2 separate regions of the Homo sapiens genome follow, and region 2 is linked to region 1. The links come from fine-mapping of genetic effects on gene expression. A gene starts in region 1. The other region holds a variant in brackets. All regions are shown on one strand. Distances are between the middles of the regions. Region 1 holds the start of MRPL38 (mitochondrial ribosomal protein L38). Region 2 has its middle 2.1 kb from the start of WBP2.

What was found.
Region 2: its variant is fine-mapped to the expression of MRPL38 in whole blood (TOPMed, PIP above 0.99).

What each region holds. Positions count from the first base shown.
Region 1 is chr17:75,903,399-75,906,304 of GRCh38, reverse strand. It overlaps MRPL38 (mitochondrial ribosomal protein L38), which reads left to right and starts at 1,421. Exons shown (of 9, transcript NM_032478.4): 1 at 1,421-1,496; 2 at 1,586-1,765. The coding sequence starts at 1,430. RefSeq lists silencers at 1,016-1,495, 1,506-1,555, 1,576-1,625.
Region 2 is chr17:75,856,014-75,858,919 of GRCh38, reverse strand. It overlaps a transcript of WBP2 not described here. Among named protein-coding and RNA genes, the nearest start is that of WBP2, 2.1 kb to the right of the region's middle. RefSeq lists an enhancer at 1,966-2,761 and a silencer at 2,830-2,906. The variant C/T (reference allele first, on the strand shown) is at 1,424.

The DNA.
Region 1 (2,906 bases):
CAAAGTGCGATGGAAAAGTCTTGCCTTTTAGGGCAGGAGGGCCAGGGCTGGGGCAAAGGAGGGTCCCAGATTCCCCAGGCTACCAAGTTTTGCCATGGTAGAACTGGATCACAAGGGCAAGCCTGAGTCCTGCCAGAAACATTCACATCTGCACTTAACCAGGTCACTTCTGCCTTTGTGTGGATAATGAGAAGTTGGAGATAGTTGAGCTAACACACAAACCACTGCGAGCGCTTTCCAGAGGGTAATCTTTTCATCCTGACAGCTGTCAGGTAAGCACTAGTGTTAACCTGCTTTTTCCCAAATGAGGAAACCACAAGGAAGACAGTAAGGTCACGATCTGGTTTTTTTTTGGGGGGGGGGAGGGGCATTTTGAGACGGTGTCTCACTCTGGCACCGAGGTGGTGGCGCAATCTCGTCTCACTGCAGCTTCTGCCTCCCGGGTTCAAGTTAATTCTTGTGCCATAGCCTCCTGAGTAGCTGGGATTACAGGCGCCTGCCACCACGCCCGGCTAATTTTTGTATCATTAGTAGAGATACAAAAATTTTTGTATCTTTAGGGTTTTGCCATGTTCGTAGGGCTGGTCTCAAACTAATTACCTCAGATGATCCGCCCACCTCGGCCTCCCAAAGTGCTGGGATTACAGGTATGAGCCACCGCGCCCAGCCACAATCTGGGTTTTTATTACTATTATTTTATTATTATTATTATTATTGAAATAGAGTTTTCACTTTTGTCGCCCATGCTGGAGTGCAGTGGCGCGATCTCGGCTCACTGCAGCCTCCGCCTCTGCCTCCCAGGTTCAAGCGAGTCTCCTCCCTCAGCCTCCCGAGTAGCTGGGATTACAGGCGTATGCCACGCCCGGCTAATTTTTGTATTTTGAGTAGAGACGGGTTTTCACCGTGTTGGCCAGGATGGTCTCGATCTCCTGACTTCGTGATCCACCCGCCTTGGCCTCCCAAAGTGCTGGGATTCCCGGCGTGAGCCACCGCGCCCAGCCCTCAATCTGGGTTTTAAACCCAAGCAGAGTCCGGAATCGGAGCTCGCACCCCTTCTCCCAACCAGGCCTGCGTCCCTGGGGAAATCAGGACGCAGCGTCCAGGGGTTGGAGGAGGGCCCCGGCGGCCGACCCCGGTCTGTGCCGCCCCCTGGTGGCCAGCCATGGGCGAGCATATGACTGCTCTCGGCTCCGCCCCGCCGTCCAACGGGCACTTCCGGAGCCGGGCGTCTACAGACCGCGGCCACCTTCCACCTGCGCCCGAGGCAGACGGTGCAGGGGCCTCCGGGACAGGCGTCTGAGGCCTGCTCCGCAGCGCGGGCCCGGGGGCGGGCCTAGGGGCGGGGCCTGCTGTGGTGCGCTCAGGCACCGCGCTGGCCACCTGTGCCCGGGTCCTAGTGGCGGCCGCAGTGTCGCAGGCCGGAGGGAAGATGGCGGCGCCCTGGTGGCGAGCCGCGCTGTGCGAGTGTCGGAGATGGCGGGGCTTCAGCACCTCGGGTGAGGGGTGGGCAGCTCTGCGGGGGGGGGGGGGGGGGCTGTCGCCCGAGCTGTGGGGCGCCGGCCTTACGTCTTCTCTCTGCCCGCAGCCGTCCTGGGCCGCCGGACACCCCCGCTGGGGCCGATGCCCAACAGTGACATCGACTTGAGCAACCTGGAGCGGCTGGAGAAGTACCGGAGCTTCGACCGCTACCGGCGCCGAGCAGAGCAGGAGGCGCAGGCCCCGCACTGGTGGCGGACCTACCGAGAGTATTTCGGGGAGAAGACAGGTGCGGGGCGACTGGAGCAGGGGCTGCAGCCACCGCCCGGGGAACTCGGGACCCGCCGGCGTTTTCCCCGGGCGCTGGGCGAGCCTTGCCGGCGCCCTTGTGGATGCTGGGGACGCTGGGAGGGCCTGCCTGCAGACCTGTGTGCGCTATCGGCAGCTTAATCACCCCAGGATTTTTCACACCTTCTGCACCTCATTCTTGGAAAATTCGCTCCCCCTACTATTAGAGTTCCAGCTCCTAAAATATTTGCTCCTAAAATCTTGACCACCTGACTTTCCGGATTGGGATGCCGTTCTGTGCGCCTCAAATACTCTGTAGGTAACTCTGGCCACACTGCATTCTGACTGTGCGCTGCCTCTCCCCAGATTGTAAGCGCCCTGTTGACAGGGATCCTGCTTGTCTTGCCCTCCATTGGATCCTTGCACCCGAACAGTGCAAGGATGTACATGTGCAATACTTTGCTGAATGAAATTAAAGGCCTGGGCAGGGTGACTCAAAAAAGAACCCAACCTGGCCGGGCGCGGTGGCTCACGCCTGTAATCCCAGCACTTTGGGAGGCCTAGGCGGGCGGATCACCTGAGGTCGGGAGTTCGAGACCAGCCTGACCAACATGGAGAAACCCCGTGTCTGCTAAAAATACAAAATTAACTGGGCGTGGTGTCGCATGCCTGTAATCCCAGCTACTCGGGAGGCCTCTGAGGCAGGAGAATCGCTTGAACCCAGGAGGCAGAGGTTGCGGTGAGCCGAGATCGCGCCATTGCACACCAGCCTGGGCAACAAGAGCGAAACTCCGTCTCAAAAAGAAAAAAAAAAAAAGACCCCAACCTTTAAGGAACTTACAATTTATGGAGTATATGCTTTTCTTTTCTTTTCTTTTCTTTAGCATTTATAGAGGCAGTTTTGTGGTGGTTAAAGGCACAAGCGTGGAATCTAAATAGCCCGATTTAAATCCTAGCTCAGCCTCTCGGATAATGTCCTTGAGCTTGTTTCAACTGTAAAATAAAATAATTGTGTCTTTGCTACAAAATTGCTGTGAGGATTAAAAGAGGCAATTCATTGGCATTTTTGCCTAATGCCATCTCTGATGAGGGCTCAGTATGTTTTCGTTATTATTATTTTGTTTTGTTTTGTTTTAAGGCAG
Region 2 (2,906 bases), 47 kb after region 1:
TTCTGGACATTGTAGCCGGAGCTGGTCAAGCTTGTTATCTCTGCACTGCAACTTCCTCTTCTTGTCATTTCCCCTCCTGTCAGGAGGCCTCACTGTAGCCACAGTATTGTGAATGAATAATTGTGGGGTTGTTTTTTTTTTTTGAGTTAGAGCTTTCCTCTCGTTGCCCAGGCTGGAGTGCAGTGGCTTGATCTCAGCTCACTGCAACCTCCGTCTCCAGGGTTCAAGCGATTCTCCTGCCTCAGCCTCCCGAGTAGCTGGGATTACAGGTGACCGCTACCACACCCAGCTAATTTTTTGTATTTTTAGTAAAGACGGGGTTTCACCACGTTGGCCAGGCTGGTCTCAAATTCCTGACCTCAGGTGATCCACCTTCCTCAGCCTCCCAAAGTGCTGGGATTACAGGCATGAGCCACTGCGCCCGGCCTGTGTATTTTATTTCTTAAAAAGAGCCTCCAGATCACTTGAGTCCAGGAGTTCCAAGGAAGCAGTGAGCTATGATCGCACCTGGGTGACAGAATGAGACCCTGTCTCAAAAAACAAAAACATAAACAACCAAGACAGCCTCCAAAATTGTATAAGCTTCAAGGCCTGGCAAAACCTGAACTTGCTCCTGTCTCCAACGTATTTGGCAAAGGGGTGGGAGAGGGGTGGGCAGGTTGTCCCCATCTTCCCATTTATGGTCCTTAGAGCAGCCAATGCTGCCTGCTCTTTGCTGGGGGGATTTTCCTTTTTTTCTTTTTCTTTTCTTTGAGACAGAATCTTCCTTTGTTGCCCAGGCTGGAGTGCACTGGGACGATCTTGGCTCACTGAAACCTTCGCCTCTCAGGTTCAAACAATTCTCATGTCTCAGCCTCCCTATTAGCTGGGATTACAGGAACCACGCCACCATGCACAACTAATTTTTGTATTTTTGCGTTTTTTTTTTTTTTTTTGGGATGGAGTTTTGCTCTTGTTGCCCAAGCTGGAGTGCAATGGCGTGATCTCGGCTCACTGCAACCTCCACCTCCCAGGTTCAAGGGATTCTCCTGCCGCAGCCTCCCGAGTAGTTGGGATTACAGGCGCGCGGATTACAGGCGCTTACAGGCGCACAACACCACACCCGGCTAGTTTTTGGTATTTTTTAGTAGAAACGGGGTTTCTCCATGTTAGCCAGCTGGTCTTGAACTCCTGACCTCAGGTAATCCGCCGACCTTGGCCTCCCAAAGTGCTGGGATTACAGGTGTGAGCCACCGCGCCCGGCCTAATTTTTGTATTTTTATAGAGATGGGATTTTGCCATGTAGTCCAGGCTGGTCTCAAACTCCTGGCCTCAAGTGATCCACCCACCTTGGCCTCCCAAAGTGCTGGGATTACAGGCACGGCACCAGGCCTGGATTTTGCTTTTCTTTTTCTTTTTTCTGAGATGGAGTCTTGCTCTGTCG[C/T]CTAGGCTGGAATGCAGTGGCATGATCTTGGCTCACTGTAACATCTGCCTCCCAGGTTCAAGCGATTCTCCTGCCTCAGCCTCCCGAGTAGCTGGGATTACAGGTGCCCGCCACCATGCCCGGCTAATTTTTGTATTTTTAGTAGAGATGGAGTTTCACCATGTTGGCCAGGCTGGTCTTGAACTCCTGACCTCAGGTGATCCACCTGCCTTGGCCTCCCAAAGTGCTGGAATTTGGCTCACGCCTTTGGCGTGAGCCACAAACCCCGGCCTGCTTTTCTTTTTTAAATTTACATATTATTTATTTATTTTTATTTTATTTTATTTTGAGATGGAGTCTCACTCTGTCACCCAGGCTGGAGTGCAGTGGCGCAATCTCAGATCACTGCAAGCTCTGCCTCCCGGGTTCACGCCATTCTCCTGCCTCAGCCTCCCAAGTAGCTGGGACTACAGCCGCCCGCCACCACGTCCGGCTAATTTTTTTTTTTTTTTTGTATTTTTAATAAGGGGTTTCACTCTGTTAGCCAGGATGGTCTCGATCTCCTGACCTCGTGATCCGCCCGCCTCGGCCTCCCAGAGTGCTGGGATTACAGGCGTGAGCCACGCGCCCGGCCTAAATTTATATTTTAAACGCACATAGGAAAAAAAAATTAAACAGTACCAAAGAGTACAATGCATACTGACATACCGAGTCACCAATCCACCCCAAATTCCTAGACCCATGTCTCAAAAATGCCACAGACATTTTCTGATGGATCTTTGCAAAAATTTTCTATCTAGATCCTATTTTTTATACAAATACAACTATATGTATACAGCATTCTGTGCTTAATAACCCTTGATGATCTTCCCATATCAGCACATAGTCTGACTTAATTCTTTTTAAAGACTGCAGAGATTGCAGGCGCCAAAATACATCTAACCATTGGGGCAGATTTCATTATGACTATCCTTAACCCACTGTACTTGTCCCGCAAGGTCCAACCTGGTATTGCACAGGACCTCACAGAACGCTGCTGTTTCCTGATCTTTTCTAGTGAGGCAGCTTTGTTTCTTCACATAGGAGACCTCCCTGGAAAGCGAAGTCAAGCAGGTGGATCTAGAGGTTGGCCACCACAGTCAGGAAAGCAGCTGTCTACTGAAAAGCAAACTCTAATTCCTTAACATTAACGAGTACCGGAACTACCACGTGGGAAGTGCAGCCCCCTCTCTCCGCCTCACGGATTCAGCTCGGAGGTGCAGGGGTTTGGTGGGGGGCGGTTAGGGAATGACAGCTGCCCCGTGGAGGACGCCCAGGGCTGGGTCACGAGCTGACAGGAGTCAGCCTTATTCTGTAAATCCTAGTTATCAGGATGCCGGTTTCGCGCCGTGCCCAGTCCCACTCAGCCTTCAGTCTTCCGGCCGGGACCCCGCTGGGCGCTAAGGGGGGAGCGGCGCCACCGCGAGGCCGGAGAGGGGGCTGCGAGGGGCGCCCGGCCGGCCTG